2 linked regions of the Homo sapiens genome follow. The protein of the gene in region 2 purifies or fractionates together with the protein of the main gene of each other region. This does not show direct contact. Each region holds a gene or a part of one and is shown on either strand. Other genes may lie near its edges. The genes, in order: ARHGEF37 and BIN3.

The links.
Region 1: the proteins of BIN3 (region 2) and ARHGEF37 purify together in Homo sapiens (affinity purification with mass spectrometry; 3 studies listed by BioGRID and IntAct, with this or other methods). This does not show direct contact.

Annotation. Positions count from the first base shown.
Region 1 is NC_000005.10:149,573,654-149,588,417, reverse strand, and holds the start of ARHGEF37 (rho guanine nucleotide exchange factor 37), read right to left. Parts: upstream 6,921-14,764; 5' UTR 6,794-6,920; intron 1-6,793. UniProt on the Homo sapiens protein: May act as a guanine nucleotide exchange factor (GEF).
Region 2 is NC_000008.11:22,661,373-22,677,267, reverse strand, and holds the start of BIN3 (bridging integrator 3), read left to right. Parts: upstream 1-8,146; 5' UTR 8,147-8,216; coding exon 8,217-8,224; intron 8,225-15,895. UniProt on the Homo sapiens protein: Involved in cytokinesis and septation where it has a role in the localization of F-actin.

The sequences.
Region 1 (14,764 bases), on a different chromosome or scaffold from region 2:
GGCTGAGACACAAAAATTGCTTGAACCTTGGAGGCAGAGGTTGCTGTGAGCTGAGATCATGCCACTGCACTCCAGCCTGGCATGGAGTGCAGGCACTCTATTAAATATTTTACTTGGATTATCTTAAGAAATCTTATAACAACCCTGTAAGAAAGAAAATCTGACAGAGCAAGATTCTGTCTCAAAGCAAACAAACAAACAAACAAACAAACAAACAAAAAGGCCGGGCACCGTGGCTCACGCCTGTAATCCCAGCACTTTGGGAGGCCAAGGCGGGCAGATCACGGGGTCAGGAGTTCAGGACCAGCCTGACCAACATGGTGAAACCCTGTCTCTACTAACAATACAAAAAAATTAACCAGGAGTGGTGGCACACGCCTGTAATCCCAGCTACTCAGGAGGCTGAGGCAGGAGAATCGCTTGAACCCAGGAGGCGGAGGTTGCACTGAGCTGAGATCATGCCACTGCACTCCAGCCTGGGCGACAGAGTGAGACTTTGTCTCCAAAAAAAAAAAAAAAAAAAGACTAAAGGGAGGGAAGACCTACAGAAACAAGAATGTGCACATAGGGACCCTGGCTACCAAGCCTGGTTTATAAAGATAGACACCATAGTCAGAAGGGAGGATCCTGTACAAAGAGCTTCCAGAACTCTAAAACCCCCAAAAGAGCTGGAATCAACAAAATTATAAGGATAACTTCCAAAGTCCCATCCCTACTATCACTACCAAGCATATTTTAAGACTGATGTTCAGAAAAAGTAAGAGAGAGGCACACTATTTGGTGGCAGTGCTTTCCTCTTCTTAGTCCTAAAGATTGATTGTGAGAGGTGTGGTGAAGGTTAGGAGCCCAGGCCCTGGAGCCAGAAAAATGTCATTTCAAATGCTGATTCTGCAATCCATTAGCTGGCTTTCCTAGGATATTTATATAACCTTTCTTACAGGGTTGTTATAAGATTTCCTAAGATAATCCAAGTAAAATATTTAATAGAGTGCCTGGTACATGGTAAACTCTCAATTATAGTAGCTGTGGTTTTTTGCTTCTATTATTGTTAAGATGGAAAGGGTAGCATTACCATTGATCAGATGTATGAAGTTGTCTAAAGACACATGGCCGATCTAGATGCATAATATTTAAGCAGGTGCCATAAACAGCTAATCATAGTAATAAGAAGAACTATATATCAGAGCCTTACTGAGAATAAGACTAATACCATAGAAACAGAGCTGAGAGACTGAGAGAGAGACTGAAATGATGGCATGACTCATTTCAGCCATGATAGAGACTGATTGCCTTTTTCATATGAGTGAATACATTTTTATTCCTCATCCCCCTTTTCCCTAAGCCACTCTGAGCTGGATTTCTGCCACTTGATTACAACAAATAGTTCATTAGCCCTTAGAAAGGGAAACAGAGATCATCTGGAGTCAGCATAGGCTAATTTAATAAAAACTGGTCATGCCAGAGTTTCCTCATTCTCTTACTGACAGTCAACTAGATCAGTAGATCAAAGGAATGCTGTAGTCCAGTGTATCTGGACCAGGAAGGTGTTGTCAGTCTCTTGTGACATACTTACATGTATGGAATAAGAGGCAGTGGTGGAGGCTGGTGTAGAGGGCAGAGACAGGACAGTAATAAGGACTAAAAAGTGATAAAACTACTAAATTCAAAGAGTGTTGATCAGTGTCCACCTCTGGGCTCTGTTTTGTTTTATTAAAGATATCTACTAATTTGTGCTTTCCAACTCTGAGACCATCTGGGTCTAAACCTCCACCACCTTTCTCCTGGACTGGTACAACAGCTTCCTGACTGGATACACAGCATCAGAGTGGAGTGGTCTTTCAAAAACATAAAATTGGGCTGGGCATGGTGGATCACACCTGTAATCCCGGCACTTCGGGAGGCCGAGGCAGGTGGATCACCTGAGGTCAGGAGTTCGAGACCAGCCTGGCCAACATGGTGAAAACCCATCTCTACTGAAAATTAAAAGAAAAATTAGCCAGGCATGGTGGTGCATGCCTGTAGTCCCAGCTCGGGAGGCTGAGGCAGGAGAATCACTTGAAACTGGGAGGCAGAAGTTGCAGTGAGCTGAGATTGTGCCACTGCACAACCTGAGCAACAGAGCAAGACTCCATCTCAAAAACAAAAACAAAAAACAGAAAAACATAAAATTTGTCACTTTACTTCTCTGCTTGAAACCCAGACAAGTCTATCACTGATTTCCATCACACTTCAAAAGAACCACTCCTTTCCCATGATAATTATTTTGTTTATTCTATTTGTTGTATGACTCAGAGTTTCATTCAAAATAATGGAAACTCCATGAGGGCAGGGATCATGTGTCTATTATTCATCAGTGCATTACCTAGTGTTTACTCTAGATCTAGCATTTAGTTGGTGCTCAATTAATTGAATTAATGAATGAAAGACATGGGCAAACACTGGCAGAATAAATATCAAATTGTCAATGACATTGTTGCAACTGGAGTTAGACTGATATGGTCATACACAACTCTTGGTTCTTCTTGGAAGCCACCAAAAAGTTTGAGTTCAGGTATGGAATAGCAACTCCCTTTGAATTTTATGTAAAATGAAAAATACAGGCCAGGCACAGTGGCTCACACTTGTAATCCGAGCACTTTGGAAGGCCAAGGCAGGCGGATCACTTGAGGTCAGGAGTTCGAGACCAGCCTGGCCAACATGATGAAATCCTGTCTCTACTAAAAATACAAAAAATTAGCTGGGCGTGGTGGCAGACACCTGTAATCCCAGCTACTTGGGAGGCTGAGGCAGGAGACTCGCTAGAACCCAGGAGGCGGAGGTTGCAGTGAGCCAAGATCACGCCACTGCACTCCAGCCTGGGCAACAGAGCAAGAATCCGTCTCTAAATAAATAAATAAATAATACAGTATGCACTATGTAGTGTTTTTTGCCTGGGGCTTTCTTTCAGAAAAATTATTTTGAGATCCATTCGTATGGAAGCATGTATCAATACATCGTTACTTTCCATTGCTTAGCAGAATTCTGTTATATGGATATACCACAATTTGTCTCTTCACACACTGAATAAACAACTGTTTGTTTCCCGTTTCACTATTACAATAAAGCTGGACCTAGGAGTGAAGTTTCCGGATAACATGATAAGTGTATATTTAACTTTATAAGTTAAGTGTGTATTTAACTAAGATCTTTTTGAAAGTAGTTGTACCATTTTACATTGCAACCAATGGTATATAAGAGATCCAGTTCCTCTACCTTCTGGTCAACATCTGGTAGAGCCAATCTTTTCATTTTAGCCATCCTAATAGTTATGAAGTGATATTTCACTGTGGTTTTAATGTGCATTTCCCTAATGAGTAATGATCTTGAGTATCTTTTCAAGTGGTTATTTGCCACCCATATATATTCTTTGGACAACATTTAGAAAAATTGTTTAAATAATGAAAGAGGCTCTTGCTCATTATATAACTAAATAAACAATATAGAAACATATAAAGAAGGCCGGGCATGGTGGCTCATGCCTGTAATCCTAGCACTTTGGGAGGCCAAGGCAGGCAGATCATCTGAGCTCAGGAGTTCAAGACCAGCCTGGCCAACATGGTGAAACCCTGTCTCTACTAAAAATACAAAAATTAGCCAGAAGTGGTGGCACATGCCTGTAATCCCAGCTACAATCCCAGCTACTCAGGAGGCTGAGGCAGGAGAATCACTTGAACCCAGGAGGTGGAGGTTATTGTAAGCAGAGATCATGCCATTGCACTCCAGCCTGGGCGACAGAGCGAGACTCCATCTCAAGAGAAAAAAAAAAGAAAAAGAAAAGAAACATATAAAGAACAGTTTATAGTCAAAATTAGAAAAAACATCCCAATATTTTAGAAACTACTGTGAAACAAAATAGAGCCACAGAGCCAAAAAGGGAAGGAATTTTCCAAGTCACTGTGCTTACAGAAAAGGACTTCTCTGTGTTGATAAATAAATGATTGGAAGTGAGGCGGAAAGACAGCAACAGACATCCCCTCTCCCATACGCAGACAGACATACACATTCTCTCTCTCTTTCCTGGAGGAAAAACTCCCCTTTATAAATACATGGAAAGGACAGGTGGTATGTGTCTTAACCCAAATCAAACAGCAGCTGTTTGTCCTTAGCCATATTTCCCCAGTTCTATTTGGAAGGCCTAAAAAGGTCTTCCAAAAGAGGAAGGAGACAACACAGTTTTTTTTTAAAGCAGTTATTTTTATAGATAAGTGAGTCTGCCCAGGCTCTGTCATCACAAGTTTGGATCCATAGATTTAAAGTTCTTGAGCCTTCCAGTATTAGGGAATTAAGAAAATAATAACAATTATTAGAATTATAAAATTCTCTGGGCACAGTGGCTCATGCCTGTAATCCCAGCACTTTGGGAGGCTGAGGTGGGAGGATCACTGGCATCCAGGAGTTCATGACCAGCGTGGGCAATATAGCAAGACCCCGTGTCTACAAAAAGTAAAAAATTAGCCAGGTGTGGTGGCATATGCCTGTAGTCCCAGCTACTCAGAAGGCTGAGGCAGGAGGATTGCTTGAACCTGGGCGGTTGAGGCTGCAGTGAGTTGTGACTGCATCACTGCACTCAGCCTGGGTGACAGAGGAGACCCTGTCTCTAAATAAACAAACAAATAAACAAATTCTTCAGCCTATTAATAAACAAGCAATAGGCTTTGGACAGTCAAGCTCTACAAATGCCATTTTGCTTCTGTTACAGCACATGAAAACACATTCCCTACCTCATTAGTTAAATAAAAAGCCATTTATTTGATCTAGGGCAGAATCAGCCAAGGCACTGTTTACCACAGTAATCTGCTGATCCAAGAGGGATGTGAGCCAACTGCCAGCAACTCCTATTCCCTGGCAGAAATTCAGCTGAGGCTCTATTGCTGAATAAGGGTGGGTGCTGCTCAGGTCCCAGTTTATGTCCTCTTTCCTCTCATTTAAAAACAAACTCTATAGGCCAGGCACAGTGGCTCACGCCTGTAATCCCAGCACTTTGGGAGGCCGAGGTAGGCAATTGCCTGAGCTCAGGAGTTTGCAATCAGCCTGGGCAACACGGTGAAACCCCATCTCTACTAAAATACAAAAAATTAACCGGGCATAGTGGCGTGTGCCTGTAGTCCCAGCTACTTGGGAGGCTGAGGCAGGAGAATTGCTTGAACCCGGGAGGCGGAGGTTGCAGTGAACCAAGATTGTGCCATTGCACTCCAGCCTGGGAGACAGCGAGACTTCGTCTAAAACAAACAAACAAAGAAAAAACAACAACAAAAAAACGGGGTGTTGACCCCATTTGAAAGAGGCAAGTGAAGCCCAGTAAACACTCCTTGTTACAGTATCTGGTAGTTTCTACTTTCAGCTTTTGACTTGGAGTCAAATATTGAGGGTAGTACCTTGCTGCACCCTTATTTAGGATACCATCACGAAGGTATGTGGTGTGGTCTGTAAGTCATAATAGGGCTGACTTTATTTTTTCATGTTTATAATTTTTTAAATTGTATTTTATTTCAGATACAGCCCAATTTCTTCCAGGTCATCACCCTTTCCTAATTCCCACAGCTTTGATGATTTTGTGTGTCATCACTTTTTTTTTTAATTAATTAAATTAAATTTTAAACTGTGTACATAATAGATGTACATAGTTTCAGGGTACCTGTGATACTTTAATATATTTATAAAGATCAAATCAGTGTACTTGGGATATCCATCACTTTAAATATTTGTCTTTATGCTAGAACCATTCAAATTATTCTCTTCTAGCTATTTTGAAATATACAATAGATTATTGTAAACTATAGTCACCCTATAATCGTCAGCACTTTTATTGAGCATATATTATGTCAAGCACTAGCCTTTATGTTCATTCTTAAGTCTGACAATAACCTGGAGGATGAAGCAGACACTCTCATCCCCCGTCTACACATAAAACTAGGCCTTGAAAAGGTTAAACTATGCTTCCTGGATCACACAGCTGGCTGTCTGGACGCACAGCAGGTACTCCTCCACCAGCTGCCTCCCTTCAAAGGAGCAAAGAAAGTGCTCTGAAACCACCCTGCCTGAGTAGCAGCCTGCAGGCATTCCTTACAGCAGGAATTCATGTCAAATCTCAAACTGTGCACAAGGCTTTGTGTGAACCCTTCTGCTGGGAGTGGACACAGATCTCTAAGGGGTCAGGGACCCCCAGAAGGTTAAGAACCAGTGCCTGGGCAGGCTGTCTGCTTCCCCACTGTAAGTTTCTGGCGTTCAGAAGCCGGACGTTCTGACTTCTAGTCCCAGCTTTGGCACGACTTTTCTGAGGGACCTTAGCCAAGTCACCTCACCTATGGATCACGGATTTCTGTTCTCTTTTTTCCTGGCCTTGACTGTCTATTCATAATTATATTTTGCTTGGCAAGGATTCTTTACCATTGTTTGTATTTTTCCGTTGTTATAATGTATGCATTCTTTCTAAAAGCTGTCTGAAATCCTGCACGGAAGAAGGCAGAGAGAAACAGGAACAAAGAATAATAATGTTTTTCCAGGCCGGCTAACCTCCCTGGGCCTCAGTTTCCCACCTGTAAAACGACTAGGGTAGGCCATATGGACCAGGTGGCTTACATTCTCATAAGGCTCAAGACACAAAGCTAGCTACCAAGCAAGTTGGGACCCGGGAGGTCGTCGCATCCTGCCTTTCTGTCCCACCTCCCTTTTCTGATCCTCCCAGCAGCTGTTTCCTGCACCCCTCTCCAGCCCCATCCTGCTTGACCAGGCCCCAAACGCCCAGCGGACTCACCCGCGCGCGCAAGGTGCCTGCCGGCGCTCACGCACGGAGGTCGGCCGCCCGGGCAACAGCGCAGCCGGGGCAGGAGGGGCGCGTCGCCCAGCTCCCGGCACCCGCGCCGCTCCGGGTGGCTGTGCCCACCGAGGGCGCTGGCGGGCGCGGCTATGCCCACGCAGCTGCCTGCGTGCGTGCGCCGCGAGGGGGTGGCTGGTCTCCAGCCTTTGTTAATTGTCTTTCTGGAGCCAGGTTGTTTTCTGTTCGCTGCTCCCGGAGTCAGCCCCGGCCGGCTCGGAACCGTGCCCTGGCTGGCAGCCAACCCGAAGGATTGCAGGCGGAGTTTAGCGACGTGCCGGCACCCACCCTCCCGCGGCCTCTCATTAAGCCACCTTCTCCGCGGGCTCGTCATCCAGAAAACAGGAGCCGGCATTTAGGCCACCCGGTGGGAATGCTGACCCCGGTATTACTGGATACCTTTGCTCCTGCCCGAATCACCAAACTGTAGGGCTGGGCCTCAATTTAATTCTTAGTGTTGGCTGCCGAGGAGCCCTTGGTTCTTGCCCCAGCTCTCCTGGGAGCCCTGCACAACCTTAGCCAAGTCGGCCAGTCGCTTCCATGACATGACGGTGTTGGTCCATTCTTTCACTCTACTGGGAGCAAGACACTGTTCTGGGCACAGAGAACACAACAGTTAACACGATAGACAAGGTCCTGGCCTTATTGGGCTCCTGTGCAAGACACTAAACCCACCATTGAAAGTGATAGTTGCTATGAAACGCATGTAAAGTTTCATATCGGGGCAACCAAACCTTGTTTGTAGCGTCAGGAATGGACTAGATTAGCTTTTCTCATTCTGCCACTTCTTTTATTCTTATTTTCATTTTTAGGGCTTAATTTAGGGCTTATTATTTATTATTACTGCTGGTAGTAGTCATATTGCTTACTAAGGGCCAGGCGCTATACTAAATGTTTTACTTGTACTGTCTCAATTATCTCATTCACAATTTCTCTAAGAGATAGGTATCATTATTATTATCCTCATTTTCAAGAGAGAGAAACTTAAGCTACAGAGGTGAAAATAACTTGCCCATGACACACAACTACTAAGTGACAGTGCCAGTATTCGAATTCAGACTATCTGAGGGTTCAGGCTGCTTAACCACCACTCTACACTCAGAAAAACATGAAAACCAGAAAAGTGTCTCCTCTTGAATGTGACAGATGAGGGCAACTGAAGGGGAGAGGGGTGGTATAGCTTGCAGAAGAGAAAAACCAAGGGTGCCGGGCGCGGTGGCTCACGGCTGTAATCCCAGGACTTTGGGAAGCTGAGGGGGGGGCAGATCACGAGGTCAAGAGATCGAGACCATCCTGGCCAACATAGTGAAATCCCATCTCTACCAAAAATAGAAAAATTAGCTGGGCGTGGTGGTGCACACCTGTAATCCCAGCTGCTTGGGAGGCTGAGGCAGGAGAATCACTTGAATCCTGGAGGCGGAGGTTGCAGTGAGCTGAGATCACGCCACTGAACTCCAGCCTGGTGACAGAGCGAGACTCCGTCTCGAAAAAGAAAAGAAAGAAAAAAGAAAAGCAAGGGAAGCTGAGGACTTTTCAAAAAAGTAGCCCTATGGATTAGACCTAACCTGTATGATCTTAGAGGCCACCAGGATGCAGAAAGCTGTAAGGAGATGCATTGCAATTTAAAATGTAAGGAAGAACTTTTCTAACAATTTGAGTATTTCAAAAATAACATCAGTTGGCGGGGCACGGTGGTTCACGCCTGTAATCCCTTTGGCACTTTGGGAGGCCAAGGAGGGTAGATCACTTGAGGTCAGGAGTTCGAGGCCAGCCTGGCCAACATGTTGAAACCCCGTCTCTACTAAAAATACAAAAATTAGCTGGGCATGGTGGTGGGCACCTGTAATCCCAGCTACTCAGGAGACTGAGACAGAAGAATTGCTTGAGCACTGGAGGCAGAGGTTGCAGTGAGCCAAGATTACACCACTGCACTCCAGCCTGGGCGACAGAGTGAGACTCTGTCCCAAAAATAATAATAATAATAATAATAACATCAGTTGCCTGGAGAGCATATCCTGTCACTAAAAGTAAACATTCAAGCAGAGAAGCTTATTAGGGATGCTTCAAAGAAAAGTCTGGTACAAGTTAAAAACTGATTGAGGTGATCTCTAAGGTTCTCTTCAATTTTGATATTTTGTCTATTCTAACCTACTGATAAAGAAACTAAGTGAGTCTTAGAGTGGCTAAGTGGCTTGTCCAAAGTCAGCCGGGAAGTGAAGAGCTGACCCCAAAGCTGAGACTGATTCCTAGATCAGACTTCCTGATTGTTTCCAGGTGAGGGTCTTGTGAGTGCTCAACGCCTCAGTTCACACTCCTGTAAAGTGTGTATGTGCCTGACCAGTTTTTCCTGAATGTGTGAAATCATCTGCTTTACATGTTTTACTTTGCGCTTTTTTTCAGAAGTACGTGATGGAATACTTTGCACTTGTAATGTGTGCCCATCTTCCTTGCTTGAGTATTCTGTGGTTTTAGACGTAAGTGTCAACACTCCCCGGGGCAGCTGCTGTATTATAGGATCCCAAGTATTTACTTGGCAATTTAAGGAGACCAAAATAAGCTGGATAATATTTTTCATTTGAAACTGATGTTTCTCTGATTCTATTTTAGGACTCAGTTATTTTGAGTGGCATTTCTAATGCACTGCCACTAATTCCACCATCTTTCACCCTAGTCACACAGATTTTGAAGAGCGGCAATCTACTTGTTGACTTTAGAAGGGGCATTATTTTCTCAGTCTTCTGGAGAGATGTTTGCTTTTGACTGGAAACCTCTAACAAAGGAATCCATTTGATTTCTAGAACATTTACAAAGAAATGGACATCACCTTGCCCTCGGTGACACTAATCCAAAGAAAAAAGGGTTCGCTTTCACTTCTACCTTTGACAGAGTGATCCATTTTTAAATTTTATGTATTTTGAAAAGAAAATACATGTGCCAGTTCAAAATTCAAAAGTATACTGTCAGGGTTAGCTTATTGATCTTTAGATTCCTCTTATTGCCTGCCATAATGCCTTGTGCATAGTAGGTGCTGAATAAGTGTTTGTTGAATGGGTGGATAAGTGAGTGTGAAGACATTGTAGGAGGCAAAGAGGTGGATTAGGGTGGGGCAGCAGACATTTGAGAGTCAAGAGACAACAGCCCCTTTCCTTGGTATTTCTTCTTTTGCCTGAGGTGTATGGGCCTTAAAGGGAGCCCTGACAGAACTCCTAGACCAGTTGCAAATTTGACCATGACTTTATTAAGGGATTTTTACTAAAGTAAGCAGCACTGGAGTCTTTTGGGTTGCACATTACCTAAAGACTAGTTACTAGCCAGAGTCCATGGTTGCAAGCGACAAAAGCTGATTCTGGTTAACCAAAGCAGAAAAGGAATTTCTTGGAAGAGTATTTGGGAGCTCAAAGAATCAGTAGAAAGGCTAGAGAACTGGATTAGTAATATAGACAGGCGCTGTGGGAGGCCAGGTGGCCAGATCCACAGAGGAGACCATGCCAGAGGAAAGATGTTTCTGCTGGACACTGGCAATGCCACTGGCCCTGCCATTCAGGCTCTGGTCCTGGGGACTGGATGCCATAGATCACCTAGCTGCCATTACTGTTACCGGCTACTGAATGTCACCACCACTGAAATTCACTAAAATTTACTGAATAAACTTTACACATTGCCTGCTTCTCTTCATTCTTCTTTCCAGAATCATAATCAGAGAAAACTGATACCAAGGCCTTTTGGCTTCCATGAATGAGATCCAGGGCCCTGCTTTACACAATGTCCTGTTTCCCAAATGTATAATGGTAACATGAAGGCTGGGCAGCCAGGAAAATGACAAATGTCCACATGGAAGTCATCTTCTAATAATTGGTAGGCCCCAAACTAAAAGAATTGAAGAACATAATCTGCATAATGTACTTAATACAGCAACTGAGCTGAATGCTCCAAACCTGGAGAAGTGGGTGTTATGTTTGTTTCTCAACCTTTTATAAGTTTAGCTAATCAGAGAACTTCTTTATAGCACTAATACTTTCTTCCCATACCATTTTTTTTAATCATTAGAATCACTTGCTGTTCCAGAGGTAAGCAAAAGAAGGTTGAGAAGAAAGAGGTAAGTTGTGCCAAATGTGTACTTAGCACCACAATACGCGCAATGCTATGAGTCAAGTAAATACATTTTTCTGATAAATTTTTTAAAAGCTGTCTACCTCTTTTAGAGTCTCAGTCTTGGGATCATATCTAATTTTTTATTCTACTTTGTGAAATCTACCACTCTTTCCATAGTAATAATGAAAACAGGTGCTACTTATTGAGTGCCTAATACATGTCAGTAATGTTTCATAGATTGTTTCTAATCCTGACAATCATCCTATGATAGATATTATTTGCATCTTACAGATGATGAAATTGAGGCTCAGAAAGATTAAGTAAGTTGTCCAAGATTATATAGCTCATAGGTGACTGGGATTTGAAGCCAAGTCTACTACTATACCACAGTGTTTCTCGTGTGGTTGCTTTCTGCAAAGATCTCTATAACCGTGTAAAAAGTGTATTCTACTAAGTCTAGAACGTAAGTTTTGAGAATTATTTCTTCTGTCTCCTGAGATATCAATTTTTTTTTTCAGACAGAGTCTCTCACTCTGTTGCCCAGTCTGGAGTGCAGTGGCACGATCTCGGCTCACTGCAACCTCTGCCTCCCAGGTTCAAGAGATTCTCCTGCCTTGGCCTCCCTAGTAGCTGGGATTATAGTTGTACACCACCAGGCCTGGCTAATTTTTGTATTTTTAGTAGAGATGGGTTTTCACCATGTTGGCCAGGCTGGTCTTAAACTCCTGACCTCAGGTGATCCACCTGCCTTGCCTCCCAAAGTGCTGGGATTACAGGTGTGAGCCACCATGCACGGCCCTGAGATATCAATCTGTAAGAAAGACAAGTCAAGAAATTATTGGTTGGCCGGGCGTGGTGGCTCACACATTTATCACATAACAGACAAATTTATGTTATGGTGGCTAAACGTTTATCACATAACAGACAAATTTAGTAGCCTCATTACTAATGTATAATAATTTTTATAACAAGACTGTCTGCTTTATTGAGCCTATAAGCCAGGCATTCTGCTAGATGATACTAAAAGATAAGTGTTACCATCTTCTTTCTACAAATGAGAAAACTGACATTTTGAGAGATTCAGAAGCTCACACAGGCCTCACTACCAGGAAATGACAGAACTGGGACTGAAACCTCAGAAGTATGACTTCAAAGCCTGCATTTCTTCCAGCATCTCATACCCTCTCTGGGCCTATTTTACAATTTCTTTGTTTATTTGTTTGCTTTTGAGACGGAGTCTCGCTTTGTCACTCAGGGTGGAGTGCAATGGCATGATGTTGGCTCACTGCAACTTCCGCTTCCCAGGCTCAGGAGATTCTCATGCCTAGGCATCCAGAGCAGCTGGGATTACAGGCATGTGCCACCAGGCCCAGCTAATTTTGTATTTTCAGTAGAGATGGGGTTTCACCACTTTGGCCAGGCTGGTCTGGAACTCCTGACTTCAGGTGATCTGCCCACCTCGGCCTCCCAAAGTGCTGGGATTACAGGCATGAGCCACTGTGCCTGGCCCTGTTTTACATTTTGTATTGAAAACCACCACTTAGCCAGGTGCCAACACGCCCAGCTAATTTTTTGTATTTTTTGAGGGGGGGGACGGCAGGGGGTTCACCTTGTTGCCCAGGCTAGTCTCAAACTCCCTGAGCTCAAGCAATCTGCCCAGCTACTTAGGATGCTGAGGCAGGAGAACTGCTTGAACCCGGGAGGCAGAGGTTGCAGTGAGCTGAGATTGCGTCACTGCACTCCAGCCTGGGCGACAGAGTGAGACCCTGTCTCCAAAAAAAAAAAAAAAAAAAAAAAAAAATAGTCATTTGGTTGCAGTGACAGAAATCCAACTTATCCAAAAACTACAATGTCCAACAGAAGAAAGGGCCATCTCTACTTTGTGTCTTTTCAAGAGAGGAAGCCCCTTGAAGAAGCTCTCTAGCAGACCCTTCCTCATGTCTCATTGCTTAGAATAGTATCCCACGTGCATAGCTAAACCAATCACTGGCCTAGAGGGATGAAGACCCATCACTGGGTCAGTCCCCTGAGCATAGAGCCATGTAGCCTTAACAAAACTGGGATCTTATTGGGTAAGAGGAAAGAAAAAGAGGAATGCTCTTAGGTAGGCAGCCAACGGTGTCTGCTACAACAGGGAGTTGGCAATTCTATAGGGAAATTAGGGAGCCAAAGATAAGGTGACCTTTCCTACCGAGTCTGTAAAGAAACATTTCTTACCAGGAAAATGAAAAGTTATACCAGACAGAAAGTACAGACAAGGCATAACAATATGAAACTAGCTTGTGTTTTCAGAAACTGCAGGAACTTCATTATAAGTGGATTGAATGATCTGCATGGATTGTTCAGTGACAGACAAGACTGGAGACATAAGCAGGCACCAGATCATGAGGGCATGGGTGCCATACTCAAGAATTTAAATGTAATCTGTAGGTAATGGGGGAGCCATTGAAGAATGAGAACAGCATAATATTATTTAATTCTAGAAAGATCATCTGTCTAGAGAGTGGAAAATGGATCCCAGAAGACATAAGGCTGAGGTGAGAAATCATTTAGGAAGTTGTAGTATTCGGCCAAGGGAGAGACAAAGACTCAGATTAAGGTGCAGTGATAGTGAGGTAGAAGAGGAGAAAGTAAGAGTAAAACTTTGATGGAGTATCTGTAGAATTTGGTGACCTATGGGATGTAAGGAGATGACTACCTGGGCTGACTCTGGGATTTCTGTCTTGGATAGTCAGGTGGACGATGGATGAGACAAATTTTGGGCTAGCTGATACCTGTGCTATGCAAGTGAAGGTGTCAACAGGAAGATGGATGTAAGGTTCTGAGAGAGGGAAGTTTGGACTGGCAATATAGACTAGGAGGTCACTGGCATATCCGTTGTACATGAAGCCATAAGATGAATGAGATCACTCTAGGAAAGCAGTAAATGCACGAAAAGAAGAGGGCTAAGGCCAAAAAACTGGTGAACACAACCAAGGGGCAGGCAAAGAAAGGGGAGCCGGCAAAGAATAGATGGAGCAGTCAGATAGACCTGTGAGGAGACCCAGCCTTTTAGTAAACTTCCTGATAGACAATATCCTCCAGCTTCTGTGTTTCAGTCTGGTCCCATACCACCAGATAAAATTATAGTTGAAATTCTGGATCAGTACCCTTCCAAGTATTGTCTGAATGATTGTAATATTTGATTTTTATTTATTGGTTTCTAGATGAAAGTTTCCTCTGTTAGTGCACCTCTGCTAGAAACTGCATGAGAAAAATGTCTAGTGAAAGGGAAACTCCCTCTCCTGAAACATGCATTCAGTTCCTTGGAATACAGTCTCAAGGTCTTGTCACTACAGATTTAATAATCTGCCATTGTGTGGGCAAGGATAGAAATAATTTATAAGGGTGCAAGTTGATACAACCATTTTCACTCAGATATTTCATTTCTATTAATTTATCCTATCACACAAAGTATATAAAGATATTCGCATAAGGATGTTTATTGTGACTTAAAAAACATCCAAGTGAAAAGTTAAAAATAGCCCATATAACTATCAACAGGATACTGGTTAATAAATCCCAGTATCTCACACAATGGAATACTATGCAGCCAATAAGAACAAGGTTAATCTATGAGTATTGACATGTAAGGATATCCACGTTATAGATATGATATATTGTAAATTTTAAAAAGCAGGTTATAGGCCATATATTGATTATATATGTAAATATATATATGGTGCATATATAATCTACTGAATCATTCAACAGATATTATTGAAGCAGGCACTGTTCTGGGGATACATTAGTAAACAGGACAGAAAAAGTTCCTGTCTC
Region 2 (15,895 bases):
TTCCTTGAGACTCCTAGATTTTGTACCAAAATGCAGGGTGTGCTCCTGTTTGCATTTTTTTTTTTGTTTCCTTTCTGAAAATAACCATGAAACTATCATTTCCTCCCACTGCCTTTTCCCTATCTTATTTGGATTAGCAGAGTTGCTGCAAGAGGTGGTTTGGAGCCACTGACAGCCTCCTTTCCTGACCTGGGTCCAGGGAACTCATAGGTGGCTTTGGAGCGGGCGCTGCCAGATGGGCGCTGGGTCCTCTGGGATGGCAAGAAGGAGTGCAGGCACTGGGCACCATGGGGTCACCATGACCTCTTCAATTAGAGACCCCTGGGAAACCAGGTTTGAGCCTGCCTTGTGCCCACATTGGTAAATATCGGGAACAACCTCAGGCCTGGCTTTCTTTCTGTAGCTTTTCTGGAATGGGGGGGCAGCAGCTCAGCCCCCTCCCTTGGCTGACAGGTGGGGAAGATGCAATAGATATAGGCTCTCCACGTGGGAAGGGGGCCAATACAGAAGAACTGGTGCTTATACAAGAAGAAAAATGGGGTGCATGGTGAGAGGGGGTGCCTCTCTTCTCCCTTGTTTGTATCCAATGCCTCCTCCCACGCGGCTGTTCCGGGCCTTCATGCTGCTCGCTGAGAAGCAACCTCAAAAGGATCCAGCTTCAGGGTTGGGGGCAGTCAGAGAGACTCCCAAAGAAGCCTGCCTCTTATGCCACCCAAGGGCCTACAGGGCACAGCTTGCTTGAGAAACTGAGCTTCCCTGTAATCCCAGCACTTGCTTGAGAAACTGAGCTTCCCTGTAATCCCAGCACTTTGGGAGTCCGAGCGGGGAGGATCGCTTGAGGCCAGGAGGTCGAAGCTGCAGTAAGCTACGATCACGCCACTGCACTCTAGCCTGGGCAAAGAGCAAGACTCTGTCTCAAAAGGATAAAAAGAAAAACAAAAGAAAGAAAGAAAGAAATGAAGGGGGCAGCAACCCAGGCCTCCCTGCCCTGAGGATAGTTCTTTCATGAGGCCCCCCGCCACAGGCCTTCAACCTCTGAAGCCCACCGCTGCCTGACTTGTTTCTGGTTGAAGAAGACCCCAGGGGAGGGCCCCTCTGCTGGTGCTGCCATCCCTGGGGCCTGGCCAGTTGCAGTTCCATGAAAAGCAAAGGATGGCTGAGGCTGGAAAAGGGGACCACGGACCAAAGTTGCTTGGTCTGACCTTCCTGGCAGAGGGAATTGGTGCCCCCGGGAGCCTTCCTGCCCTTGTTTGGCCTCTCTTCCGTCCTGCTGTGTGCCTTCTTTGGGGATTCCTTCCTGATCAGTCCAGAGGTACAGCAGGCCAGGGCTGGAGGGTTGCAGCCGGCCTGGCCTCAGTGGCACCACTGTCTCCTCCTATCCATCAGTGAGGCCTTCTCCACATGCCCCTCATGCTGGTTACCACCTTTTCACTGTGACCAGATTTGGCATGTGCCCCATCTAATTTCTCTAGGCCAGCCTGCTGCAGCGGAACCTCATCCCTTTCTTTGAGGGTCCTGGCTTGCCCCAAAGGTGCTGGCCTTGGCATGAAATCCTCCCCCAGCCCCCCGTTGTCCTTCCTGACACATCCACACTATGCATCCCTTGGTTCTGCCTCTTCCTTCCCAGCGGGACCCTTCTCCTCCCCCAGGCTGAGCTCCTGGGCTATTTAGGGCACTGCCGGCCTTGTGGTGTAATCAGTGCCCGGGGATAATTGCCACCTGCCCTGCCGGTGTCTGGGGGCTGTCTCCACCACAGCAGCAGGGGGTGGACGCTGGGCAGCCAGGCCTGCAGCAAGGTCAGGCTGGGGCAGTCCTGCCCTCTCCCCAGGCCTGCTGCTCACGCGTGGGACTTGCAAGGATTCCCTAGGAAAGCCATGCGTTCCTAGAAGCTATGCTCACCTGGGACACTCTGTGGCTTCAGATGGGGGTGGATGGCTATCCCAGCCAGGGGACAAAAGTCCTGAGGCTATTCTATGCACCCACACACAGCCCAAACCCTGTTCTTCCATACTACCTTCCGAGGTCAGGGGATACCCCCTGGCTGCTGACCTCTGGACAGAGCAACAACCAAATCAAGAGGGACTTGGATTTGACCTTCAGTCCACCAGGCCTCATCCTCCTCCTTCAAGGAGGCAGCAAGGGCTAATGACTGTGAAAGTGAGTCTACTATAAACGCTAGCTTCCTCCCTTTTTGCTACATTATTTTCTGCTCCAAGGCAGCCTGGGTTTAGACAGCCTGGGTTTAAATGCCTGTCCTTCTCACTTAGCCAATTCTGTGAACTTGGGCAATTAGTTCAGCCTCGGTTTCCTCATCTGTAAAAAGGAGATGATCAGAGGAGCTGCCTCACCAAGTTACTGCAGAATACACGATCTAATACATGTAAAATGCTTCACCCAGTGCCAATGAGACTCTACAATGGTGGGTATTATTATCGGGAACTGCAAAGGGCAGAGAACGGGGGTTGGGAGCATCCATACGCCAGCTCTAGGTTGCCCAGGAACGCAAAGCGGGGCTGAGCGGACAAACCAGAGGCAACCCCAGGACTGGACACTCTCTATGGCAGCTAAGATTCTGGAGGCTGGGAGTGGGGCATCTCACAGACCTTCTCCATCTAGGAGCACCCACTCCCACTCTTTTGACCTCATTTCCTGTAAGGTGGTACCATAAAAGCTTTTTGAGGCCAGAGCACACCAAATACCTGTGACTACTTTATTTTCCAAAGAGAAAGTCAGCAGCAGCAACATCCAGATGAAATACTCTGATCTTGAGAGATGCAGAAATCGAATTATGTTTCTGTCTCTTCCTTTCCTGTTACAGTAAAAAGGTTATTTGTCCTAATGCTTGAAGTTCTTTACACAAATATTCATGGCCCTGTCACTTGAAAGGCCATTCAGATAAATAAATGTCTGCTTTCCAGAGTGAAGCATTTGGGGGTGGGTGGTGAATGGGATGAAGGGGTGGGCCAAAAGACCAGGACTGACAAGGTCAGCCTGCCCCCAAAGCAACCAGGCAACCCAGCACCATTTTCTCCCTGCTTCAGTGCCTTCCCCAGCAGGGCCCAGAGCTCCCACTTCTGACACCTTGCACCAACAGGCTAGACTGGAACCTCAGCTCTCCAGCCCCACCAGCACCAAGGTGGGAGCAAAGAGGGCCGCACTGGGTAGGAACATCAGCCAAAAGTACTAGATACTGCCCCATGGAGATGGAGAAGAAGGGAGAAGGCCAAAGGGTGGGGAGTGGGGCATGAGCACCAACCTCACCTGCCAGGAATGTCTCAACCCCAGGTAGAGCCATGAGGGCCCCAGCTCAAGGCAGCGGCCTTAGCCATACCACAGCCTGGCATGAGCTCCACATCACAGACATCCTGAGCCCCAGCTCAGGAGCTGTGTCTTCAGTGACTTCCTCTGACTTCCCCTTCTGGGTGTGCCCTGGAGCTACCTGGAGGAACAGACCATCCAGACCCAACTCAGAATCTCAGGAGCCTTGGACTCAGTGGTCCTACTGCCAGTTCTCTCCAGTGGGTACCTCCTATTGTGGGTCTGGGGCCATCTTAGAGCCTACCTGTCAGGGGGCAGCCCAGCCTGGACAGCCCTTGGCCTGATGCCCAGGGAACATATCAACCCGGGGGGATTGTTTTCCCTACTGGTGCACTCTCCCTCACTCATGTCTCCTCCTGGTTTCTGTGAGCTAATCAGAGAGAAGGAGGGGGAGGAGGGGGTGCTGCTTGCCTTCCCCGTTATCTGCAGCAATCCACGGTGACTAATGCTCCCAGTTGGTAAAAAGGCAGTGTAATCAAAACACTTTTTTTTTAGTCCTTAAAGTTAGTCATTCTCCCAGAGTGGAGGAAAAAAAAAAAAAAGCCCACAGCAGGCACCACGAGATGCAAGCTGAGAGGCCTGCACTGCTGGGTGGAACCAAAGCATTGGCTGTGGCAGCTCCTGCAGGTCAGAGGCCAGGACTCCTCCTCCTCTGGGTCCTTGGCTATCCTTCCTCCACACCCGCATTTGTTCTTGCTTTCCCCAGCATCTGGGCCTTCTGATCCCTGAAGGACGTCCATGCCATGTGAGGAGCTGCCCTTTCCTGTCACCCTGCCCGGTGCTGCCACCTGCTGGCCTGGCACTCTCCGTACTGGAGGAAGCATATAAAAGCTCCCAGGATGAGGCTGAGCTTGGCACCCTGGTCATAGGGTGGCCCTCCCTCCACCCACAACCTGGCCATTTAGTAGCGGTGCTTCTCCTGGTTCCATCTGTCTGCTGGCTTCTGACCTCACTGTGCCTTGACAGAACCAAAGGTTGTTGGAGGTCAAATGGCAAACTGTAGTGGCAAAAGCATAAGGATCAAAGCCAGGGTGCTCAGGTCAGAAACCCCACTTCACTGCTTCATGAAGCTATACTATTGCTTCATGGCTATACTTCAGCGCCATCATCTGTGAAATGATAATAATGGTAGTATCCACCTCACAGGGTTGAGGCAAGGATTAAATGTGAACTGCAGAGAATAGTGCCTGTCATGTCATGAGTGCTCAATTATTGTTAACTTATAATAAAAATAATAACAATAAAGTGGAATATAAACCATCTCATCGCTCTTTCTTGTCCAAGGCAGACATGACTAATCAATCATAGAACTTCCCCACTGATGGCAGATTCCCCAGAATCCTCAACACTGCATTCCAAGCAGACAATCAGAGTTGGCACATGGGATGATATCCATTCGCCCTCCCAGATCTAACCTGGACCTTTCCCATTGCAGTCAAGGAAAATGAGGCCCAGAGGAGGGACAAGACTCCCTCAAGCCACTTGGAGGCAGAGCCACGGGTCAGACAGGCGTTCCTGGTTCTGCTCGCTTCTTGCTGTCCTGGCTTCTGATGTGTCACTTCACCCTGACCTTTGAGCAGTCCGTGTGGGCCTCCCACCACTGGAAATCTCACCCTGATTTCCTCCTTCTTCTCCCACCCTTGCTCCTCCTCCTATGTCCTTGCCCCCCAAAGGCCCTGGGAAAGCTATTTTTCTGAGACGTCCTACTGAGCAGGTACAGAGTAGGGAGAAGTGGGGCAGTGAGGCCACAGAGAAACCTGAGGCCTGTGTCTGAATATCTGCAGGAGCCTCCCTGAGGAATCAAGACCTTTAGGGCTCCAAGAGAGCTGAGCCCACCAATTTGGCCCTATCACATTCAGTTTTTCAGCCTTAGCCCAGTGCTATAATGAAGTCCCTGACAGCCCAGGTCCAGGTTCTGGGAATGCTCACTCTTCACTAATAAGAGGTTGGCATGGTGAAAGACTCGGGGGCCAGCCCTAGACTTCTGTGTGGGAAAGGCTGGGAGAGACAGGACATGACAATCCCAGAGATGAGAGTCAGTGGGAAGCACCTGCTTACCAACTTCTGAGCAAAAACCTCCAAGGAAAAGTTGGGGGCTGATGGTGGAGCAGGTTCTGCTGCTGCTTTTCCCCTCGTAAACAGCTTTGTCCCAGAAGTAGACCTCTGCCACCTGAACAGTCTTTTACCTTCAGGCTCAGACTTCTGGGGAAGAATCAGTATTTACAAGGCTTGAAACCAGGAGTATCCACCTCTACCCAAAGCGCCTCCACTCTCAGCTTCTACTTAGAAACCCAATTTTCTCTTTTCCATTCCTTCCCTGCAGGGGCAGGATCAATCTGTATCATGCTGTCCCTTTGGTTATAAATAAGAAAGACATAGCTCCCGACCCTGCAGGCTGAGTTTTTCACAACAGTGGGAAGTGTTTGTGTGTCTCCATGTTCAGCTCCCCAGGGATCAATGCCTCATGGCACAGCAGGCTCATGGAGGAACACAGGATAGCAGGATGCCTGACTGTCCCTCCTCAGCCCAGTGCCCCTCTAGCTGAGCGAATGAGCCACAGGTAAGGAGACCAAGCAGGCACATTCCAGACAGACTCCTGGGAGGACACCATTCTTTTTAGTAACCTCAAAGATCCTGCTGGCTGCATTAAAGATTTCGAGGTGACCTGTCAACAGCACAGCCCCAGAAAAATTCATATTTAGCTTTATCCAAGATATCACCAGTTCCTCAGACCTGCCCACTTCTCTGGGCTTGCCCCTCTGTTCACCTGCCTTTCCCATTCTCCTATTTCCCTAGGGCCTCTAGAGTCAACAAGACAGCTGACTTGGAACCTTGCAATGTTGGATACTTTGGGATGTGATCTACCCACTCCATCTTATAGATGAGGGGACTAAGGCCACAAAGGGGATGTGACTTATCTGAGGTCAGTTATAGTGTCAAAGGTTGAACTGGAAATAGAGCCGCAGACTCCTCCAGACTTGTAGTCCAGAACTTATCCATTCTAGTCCTCTAGGATGTGTCTGCTGCCCTCCAGCCCTGAAACAGACTTCTACTAGGATATAGCAGTTACCTAGGCTAAAACGTTTGGAAATATTTATCCCTGTGGGGCATAACTGAGGGAGGCAGAACATGGGGAAGGGAGGAAGCAGGTGGGAAAACTATTCACAGGTGCTAACTGCCAGGAGGCTCCTAAACCCACAACAGCCCTTCCATCCGTCACACTCTCTGCAAAGCAGCAAGGACTCTCTCTTTCCCTTTACCCACACTCTCTGCCCAGGCTACCCTTTGGTGACTTCTGCTCTTCCTCTTTACTCTTCAAGGCTGCTCTTGTGCTCATTTTGGCCTGTTTCCTGAGGAACAACATGGTAATGAAGCTGATCTGCATGATGTGCTTGGGGATCCAACCTCCATTGGAAACGTCAATTGAGTCAAACTATGGACTCTCAAGAATGGAAACAGAAAACACAAATGAGAGACTGCATCCTGTGGCCCACCCTCCTACCTCTCCTGCTCAAGCCCTCTACTCCACCCTAGGAGGTCAAAACAAATCATACACTACTTCTGCTCTAGGTCATTGGTCATATTTTTCCCGCTAGGTCATTGATTAGCAACCCCCTAAGCAGTCCCTGAAACAATCCCGGTCCATCTGAGGAAGGAGAATTCCTAGAGAGAAGGTCACTGGGGGCCCAGCAGCACCTGCACGGGCCTCACTGCCTTCTTGTCTCTCTTCCAAGGCAGGGAGGTACTTAGCGGTGAGGAAACCAAGTCGGCCCAGAATCCCAGGCAACTTGTGAGCCACTAAGGCCCTGAATTCTGACTTTGGGAGACCCGAGGCAAGTCAGCTGCTTGCTTGGTCCTGTCTGTGTCTTAGCCATGGTAAGTTCCCTCTGCCTGGAGCCTCGTCACCCCTCATCTCAGATTCACCTGGCTAGCCCCGATTCTGCCTTCAGGGCTTGGCTTACACACTGGCTCCTCCTGGAAGCCTTCCCCAAAACCCCATGTGCTACTTCAGGGTCCCCTTCTAGGCTGCCACCACACCTCATTCTATCCTATCCTATAGCATGATTATAATTGCCTGCTTGTCTCTCCCTCCAGGAAAGTAGCTCTGGGAAGGAACAAGAGCAGGGCAGATACTTCTCTGAGATAGCTGTATCCTAAGGTTGGCTCGGTACCTGACACTAATATTAGTGCAACTAGTATTAGTTAAATGAAGGAATAGAACGAATGGGGCAATTTACATCATTTGAGTCCTGTAGAGGAGACCAAAGGGAAGGGCTGAAAGGCAGGGAACAACTCATACTCTGCGTCTTATTGTGTTGAATAACTCTAGGAAACATTCCAACCTGAAAAGCACCTATCTATTGATATTCAGAGCCCTGTGCCATCTTGGAAGGGAAACGTCCGTTTGTTTGTAACAGGTAATGCATGTGTGGTGTACAAACTGTAAAAGATAGGAAAGAGCATTCAGAGAATGTAAGTTTTCCACTTTCTCCATCCCAAATGGCTTCTTCTCCCACAGACAATTGCTGCCACTGTCTCTGGATTAGAAACCACTTGACAGAGGGGACAGCCCGGCTAAGGGCCCTGCATGGTCAGGTGAAGAGATCTTTAGGAGTCAGTGTTGAAGGCAGAAAACGCCCCCAGAGGTTCCCCTCATCCCCCGTTGCAGCCTGTGTGTCTAAGCGCTTGGCCAGAGCCAGAGAGTCGCCGGCAAGGGAAACTCCGCGGCGAGCACGCAGCAGCAGAAGGGTTAACGCGCCGGGCTCCGCCTCCCAACCGCCTCTTCCGGGCAGAGAGGCGGGCTTACGTCACTTCCTGGAGACTGGTTGAATCCGGAAGTGACCCTAGAGAAACGAGTTGTGGCTGAGGACCCCGGCGGCAGACGCAGGTTCGGGACCATGAGCTGGTGAGTGAGGCCCAGGCGGCGGGAGCTGCTGGACCCGCGGACCCGCGAGGCCCCTGGCCCTGTGTCAGTGCCGCGTCCCGGCTCCCTCCGGTCCCGCGCGACCCCTCCGCCCCAGAGCAAGGCCCGACAGCCCCTGCCCTAGGGTCGTTCCCTCGGTGCTTTCCGGAGTCGCAGTCTCTCAGCAGGACTCCCGGGGAGAGTGGCGGATGATCCTCTTAGCCTGGGACTCCGCGTCTGACCCGTTTTGCCGGACTCGCGTCCTCCTAGCTCCTTGAAGTGAGGGACTTCCTTGTTCCCTCCTTTTTTAAACACCCATTGAGGTGGAGTCAGTGTCGTCTTTCTCTCCTGTGGGCATCTCTGCCCCGCGCCAGTCCCTCCAGAGCTGTGGCCCTCGCTGTGGCAGCCTGGACCCAGTTCACTAATCAAAACCCACTCCCTTCTGGGTAACTATCCTCTTTGCACGACTTAGCAGGCTTCAAAAGACAAGGAAAACTTGCTTCTCTTTTTAAAGGGGCCAGAATTACACTCCGCACACACCCTTCCACTGTGGGATTGGACTGGTTTTAATCATTCCAGAGCTATTACTCACTGCCTGCCCTCTAAATAGGCATGGTTAAGTTTAAACTTATGGGAACTATCATGCCATGAGAAAAGAAGCCAGGGAGTCTTAGAGTAATAGAGTCACAATTCCAGTTGCTGCAGTATGATGTGATACTTGGGTCATAGTAGACACTTCATAATGGTGTATTTATTTTGTAAGACTCAGTTTGCCCAAAAGGCAATCCCCATTTGTTGCTCTCGATTATTTATGTTCACAGGAGAGAATTGTGACTTGCCTGCCTTCCTGGGGCTTTCTTAGAGGTTAGAGAATACTCATATGCAGCACCTTACCTTACCGTCAGGCCCAAGGACCTATATAGCCACAACCCTGGACCTCAGGGGATTCAACTATAGTGTGTGAATAAATTGAGCCCCAGAGATGTACAAGATTAATCAGCCCATGGACATAGGGAACATATTTGCCACTCTGTCCTCAGAGGCTAGTGTGTTTGTTTATGCAAAGCGCATGATAACCAGTTATGAATGAATTAAGATAACAGAATGTCCTTCAGGAAGGCTTTTGAAGCTTAATTTTGGCCATCAGTGGAGAACGCAAGCAGCTGATATCAGTCAGTGTCAGGGATACTTCTCTAAAGTAAAATGCGAACCATCTGTCCCCTCCCCCACCTGTTTCTTAGACCAAGATTGATGGACAAATGTCAGACAATCACCGCAAGCACGGGAGGAAAGCCTGAAGCAATGTCCTAATAAGCCCCGGCAGGAGCTTCTGCTTTTCCCTCCACCATTTGCTCCAGGAGGCCAATAAGGGGCTGGAGCCTTAAAAAGCTACCTTCCCTGTCTTGTTATAACCTAGTTAGTGGTGGGCAAAGCGGCAATTCTTCAGTTCCCTTTCCCAGAGGAATTACGTCCTTTCAGTGTCATTCTGGGCCCCCCAGTCTTGCAATATAGATATCCTTTTGGCTGCTGCGTCTTGAATCTTTGGAGTGTTCTTACCTAATTTTTCAAAGTGAAAATGAGGCAGTACAGATGCTTTATATTGCCTAGATTGGCCTTTACTGAACCAATCTTTCCTTCACAAGTTGGGAGAAGAGCACAGCAGAAACTAATAAAGGTAAATGATTCTCTGGGTGATCCGAAGCAGGTTGTTTCCACCTGTCTCACAGAAAGTTTCCCTTCTGAAAAAATAGTAGCCCATTCCTTAAAGGTTATCCTGTCAGGTTGGAGAGAATTGAGATTGACAACTGTCTAACAAGAGCTGAGATTTTCATCTAGTAGCTTTAATTTACCAGTACATGCACATCTTGGTATCTCCTTGGACTGAGAGTCACAGCCAGAAGGGTGGCTTTGTCCCTCAAAGCTGAGATTCCTTTCTCTTCCCCCTTAAAGGGCTTCTACGTCATCTCTTGCGTGGACCCTGACCCTGTCTCTCAAAGACGGGAACAGCACCGGCGCCTGGGCACACAATCACACTCAGTTCCTAGCTCAATGGCTGGCAAGGAGACCGGGGCTGGGTCCTTCTGATTCACTCCCTGAGTGGTTTTCCTGCCCCCAGAATGAATCCATCCATTCATGTGAGACTGGAATTCTCATTAGGGGAAGAGACCAGAGTGACGTAGAGCCATCATGGGAGGCTGATGCCCAAGGTCAAGTTCACCAAGTACATGGGCTGTGCCAAGCCATCATTAAATAAGGCACATGGCCCATGGTCCCCAGAGGGTAACCATTGTTCTGGGCTAGGCTGAGCTTTCAAAATGTCACAGTGAGAAATGTCCAATATTGATGCCCTTTGCACACTGTGGACTTTGCATGAAGAGTGAGAGGCCTTTGTTCTCTGCTTCCTCTGTGCAGGCAACCCGCCCACCCCCTGTTTGTTTAGTGGGTACCTGCTGCCTTCCTGCACCATCTACCCATCCACTCCCCATACACCCATCTGCCTTTCAGAAAAGTGACCCGGTGGTCTGTCCTACTAGGAAGAAGGCATTTGATATTCACATCTCAGATCACAGATTCACTTCTTGGCCTCAAGCCAAATGCTTCTCTCTCTCTCGCTCTCTTTTTCTCTCCCATTGTCCACCCCACCTCCCCCCGCCATTTGCCCCCCTCCCAACTTTCTCTCCTCTCCTCCCCACTCACCCCCTCCCTCCCTATTTCTGTCTCCCTCTTGTCTCCCTTTTCCCCTTCCTGTCTCTCTTCCCCATCTTCCAGTGTATACTCAGGTGGCTTTATTATGGTATGGAGAGAGGATTAAGTAGAATTAAGAATAGTGACCTCAATCTAAGCTGGCTCCAGGAATTGTAGCCTCCTGTTGAACCATACACCTTGATGATTTTAGGCTTAAACGAGGAGGAAAAGGGAGTACTGGAAGAAATCTCCCTATACCTAGGGGTCCAGTAGTTTGACAAAAAGGAAGGAAATTAGAGGCAGAGCAGGTAAGTGTGAGTAGGAGTTAGAGTGCTGCGTTCAGGTTCTGGCTCAGCCACTCACAGTGCGGCCTGGTCAAGCATTGAGCTGTTCTCTGTCTTAGTTTCTCCATCTGTAGCATGGAGTGGCCATTCCTGCTGACAATTTGCCACCTGAGCCTGCTGTGAAATGAGTGGAGTGATATTTTTCTGACTCTTCCGGGGTCTTCTACCTCTGTCTGCCCTTCACACTTTGGTGTTCCTCATGTTTGATCCTTTTTGTTTCTTTCCTGTTTTCACCCTGTAGTCCCTTGCCATCATCTTCAGGATAGAGGCCCAACTCTGGGCCAGGGCTTCTGAGGCCCTCTGGGCCTGGCTGTCCATCTTCACTCCGTGTGTTCCATCCTCCAAGCTTCTCCTGCTCTCTCGTGCCCATGTGCCTCTGGATAACTGTCCCTTCTGCCTGAAATGTTTCCCCTTCACTCACACCCTGTCCACTAGGCCAGCATCTACTCATCCTTCAAGAGTCAGGCCACGCTTCACCTTCTCTGAGGGTCTTCCCTGAGTGGCCCCTCACACCCTGCCATGCTGCACTGGGTGCCGCTCTTCTGACCTTCATCAGCATCTGTACTCCGCTGGCTGGTTTACTTGTCTGTGAGTTCTTGAGTATGGGGACTGTCTTGTGGTCATTGCTATTCCCTAGCACTGTTCCTGGCAGTCAGGAAGTGTTTATTAAATATATGAATGGGGCCTTTTTTCCCTTTTCCTGACTTGCCTCAGCTCAGGAAAAATGTTAAGATAAAAACTTGCAGAACCTACAAACCACTTCCTAAAATGAAGAGCCTCTGAAAGTACTATTGTTAAATTGACCGACACAAGTGGCTTCCAGGTCAGGCTGCCTGTGATTTCTCCTCCCCACTCCTTCTGATCCTCCACTCCAAAGTGCTTTGCTGGGTTTCTTCTGTACTTCCATAGTGCTTCTCCTGTAGCACTTCTGCATCCTTCTGAGTATCACAGACGTACACCTCCCTTCCACACCAACCCCATGAGAACAGGAGCGACATAGAGCTTCTTCATCTTTTTGTACGCATAGTGGGTATCATGCACATAGTGGGTATCTAACAGGTAATTGTTAAATGAATGGAATATAAAGAAGGTAAACTTCTGGGTCAAACAAAACCATTATTCAGTTTTTTTCTCAGTGAAGTCCTTTCCCCTATGATTACCGTTGCTGTCTCACATGTGTAGAGTGCTTCTAACTTTTCAGATGGCTTTCCCGTCCTTTGTCTGACTTCATGCTTATGTCTGCGCAAGCAGTGCAGTCTTATGATCCCCCTTGGTAACTTACTAGAATTCACTCAGCTAGTACCTGGAAGAACTAGAACTAAAATGTGTCTCCTGAGTATTCTGTCCCCATGATCAGGAATATTAGAAGAGTAGCAGACCATTCCCAAGCTGATTGGATCACGGAGTTTCACTTTGCTAAGGTGTGTTGACACTAGCAGGTTGGTAGTGAATCACAGGGAGTTGACAGTCTTCACACATAAGTGATAGAGGAAGTCCTTGTGTCCTGCAGACCTCTAGGTGTTCTGTAACTGGCTCAGCTTCTTCCACCTATGGGGCCCCTGCCTAAGGCAGCCTCATCACTCATGTCCTCTGTGACTTTGGACACACCAAGCTTTTCTTCCTCTGTGGAGAGCATAGTAATGCCTTGAAGACAGGGGCCCTATAAAATGTCTGTGAGATTCTGTATGTGAGCTTGCTCTTATTTCAGGCGTTTAATGAGAGGAGAAGGATTTCTTCCAGATCTTGGAGCAGTCAGAAAGAGTCAAGTGTCTTGAGTCCCACAGCTACTTAGTCAGAGGTGTTATATGTATTATACTCTTTAAGGAAATCTGTCGGAGTAAGCTTTAGAGTCAGCTGTTAAACCTATTAGAATTGTTTTCCCAAACTCATGATTTTGGTGGCTAATCCATCAAATAGGGCCCAGTATAGTGTGATGCACATACATGGTGCTCAACAAATATTTGTTGATTTAATGCTTGTTCAACATTTATAATGTGCAAAAGTCTGTGCTAAATGTTGAGGAACATTTAAAAGACTTGCATGAGTCGATCTCTATCTTCAGCCGGTGTATGGAAAGTGCTAGGGATTCAAAAGGACAGCCGATCACTAAATGTCAGTATGGCATCATCAAGAAAGACTTGAAGCAGATGTAATTTTAACTGAACCTTGACTTAGCAAATACGTGCTGTTTCAGTGGGAGGGAGAGAAGGATCCAGGTAAGAAGCATGGCATGAAAAAGGTGTGTGGAGTCAGAATGCGTCAAGAGTGTTTGTGCGGACTGTCAGGAGGCCAGCTTGGAGGTGGTAAGTAGTGGTTTGGGTAGAGGCTGCATTGGGGAGAATTGGCACTCCACCTCAGGGCCACGTTATATAGTGCTTTCAGTGCCATGCTGAGGACTTGAAATTGAGCCTAGGCTTTTGGAAATTGAAGGCTTTTGAGCAGGGAAGTGGCATGGCCAAAGCAATGATTTAGTCAGATTATTTTGGCAGTGGCCTGCAGGATAACTCAGAAGAGAAAAAATGGAGCCAAGGATGCTAACTTGGACAATAGTTTCCTTTTTTTTTTTTTTTTTTTTTTAAACAAATCGGGGGGTCTCACTGTTGCCCAGGCTGGAGTGCAGTAGTGCAATTACAGCTCACCACAGTCTCAAACTCCTGGGCCCAGGCAATCCTTCTGCCTTAGCCTCCTGAGTGGCTGGGACTATAAGTGTTAGCCACCACACCTGGACTAGTTTCCACAATTTTTTGAACACAACTCACAGTTAGAAATACCTTTGATATCACAACTCACACACACACACACACACACACTTATACTTGAAATAAAAGTTTGACACAGTATGTGTGCAATGCACTCTGATATTTTCTATTATGTTCTTGTTCATGGTTTTTCGTTTTTTGAGACAGGCTCTTGCCCTGTTGCCCAGGCTGGAGTGCAGTGGTGCCATCTCAGCTCACTGCAACCTCTACTTCCCGGGTTGAAGCGATTCTCGTGCCTCAGCCTCCCAGATAGCTGGGATTACAGGCATGCACCACCATTTTTTAGTAGAGACTGAGTTTCGCTATGTTAGCCAGGCTGGTTTCTAACCTCTGGATTCAAGTAATCCACCCGTCTTGGCCTCCCAAAGTGCTGGGATTACAAGCATGAGCCACCGCGGCCAGCCTTGTTTGTTTTTTTAAAGAATGACCCACCTCAGTTGACTTTTTTTTTCTTTTTTTCTTCCTGAGGTGAGTGCATATGATTTTTTAATTTCATGACTGATTTTGATCTATGTATATAATGGAAGACTGTGTAGCAGTTTAAATGACCTTTGAGTGATAGATGTTCTGCAAAGACCTCAAGTTTGAAAACCATCTGTCTAAGAGTATCATTACAAATACTCAGACGATAAGCTAACACCTTTGACTCCAGCAACTGAAGATAGGGTTACTTGTGTATTTGGTTGTTTCACTGGGTTAATAAAAAATAACAGAAGGGGCAGCTGTAAAGAACACTGGCTGAGTTCTTTATAAGAACTTATTCCATAGATTTGAAAACTGTCAATTGCTTTCCAGAAAAGAAAACCCAAGTGAACAAAAGCTCATGTAAAGATGTTTGGTCCTATTAGTAATCAGGAAAAACAGATTAAACCAACAATGAGATGCTGTTTCACAGCCATCAGACTGGCAGAAATTTTAAAGCCTGACAATGCCAAGTATCTGAGGGTGAGGAATAGTAGGAATTCACATACACTGCAGGAGGGGGTGTATATTGGAGATTTTGGAGTTGGAACAGTGGCTGTCCCCTACCCTAGAGAAACTCCCATACCTCCATGCAGCAGGGGACACATGCCAGGAGTGTGAGGGGCATCGTCATGTGCAGATGCCCAGCCTCTGGAGAATGGGGAAATAAATTGTGATGTCTTTACATGATGATATGTTATGGGCCGGGCGTGTTGGCTCACGCCTGTAATCCCAGCGCTTTGGGAGGCAGAGGCGGGCAGATCAGTTGAGGTCAGGAGTTCAAGACCAGCCTCACCAACATGGTGAAACCCCGTCTCTACTAAAAAATACAAAAATTAGCCGGGCATGGTGGTGGTGCATACCTGTAATCCCCGCTACTCAAGAGGCTGAGGCAGGAGAATCGTTTGAACCTGGGAGGTGGAGATTGCAGTGAGCTGAGATCATGCCACTGCACTCCAGCCTGGGCAACAAAGTGAGACTGTCTCAAAAAAAATGTATATATATGTAGTAGTTAAAATGGGTAAAATAGAGCTGTATGTACCAGTGTGGGCAAATCTCAAGAATGTAATGCTGAATGTAAAAAGCTAGCTTCAGAATGATACATTCAAATAAATAAGAGTGATACACTCAACATTGTAGGCTGGGCACGGTGGCTGACACCTGTAATCCCAACACTCTGGGAGGTCAAGGCAAGCAGATCACTTGAGGTCAGGAGTTCAAGACCAGCCTGGCCAACATGGTGAAACCCCATCTCTACTAAAAATACAAAGATTAGCCAGGCGTGGTGGTGCACGCCTGTAATCCAAGCTACTAGGGAGGCTGAGGCAGGAGAATCACTTCAGCCCAGGAGGCGGAGGTTGCAGTGAGCCAAGATCATGCCACTGCATTCCAGCCTGGGTGATAGAGCGAGACTCCATCTCAAA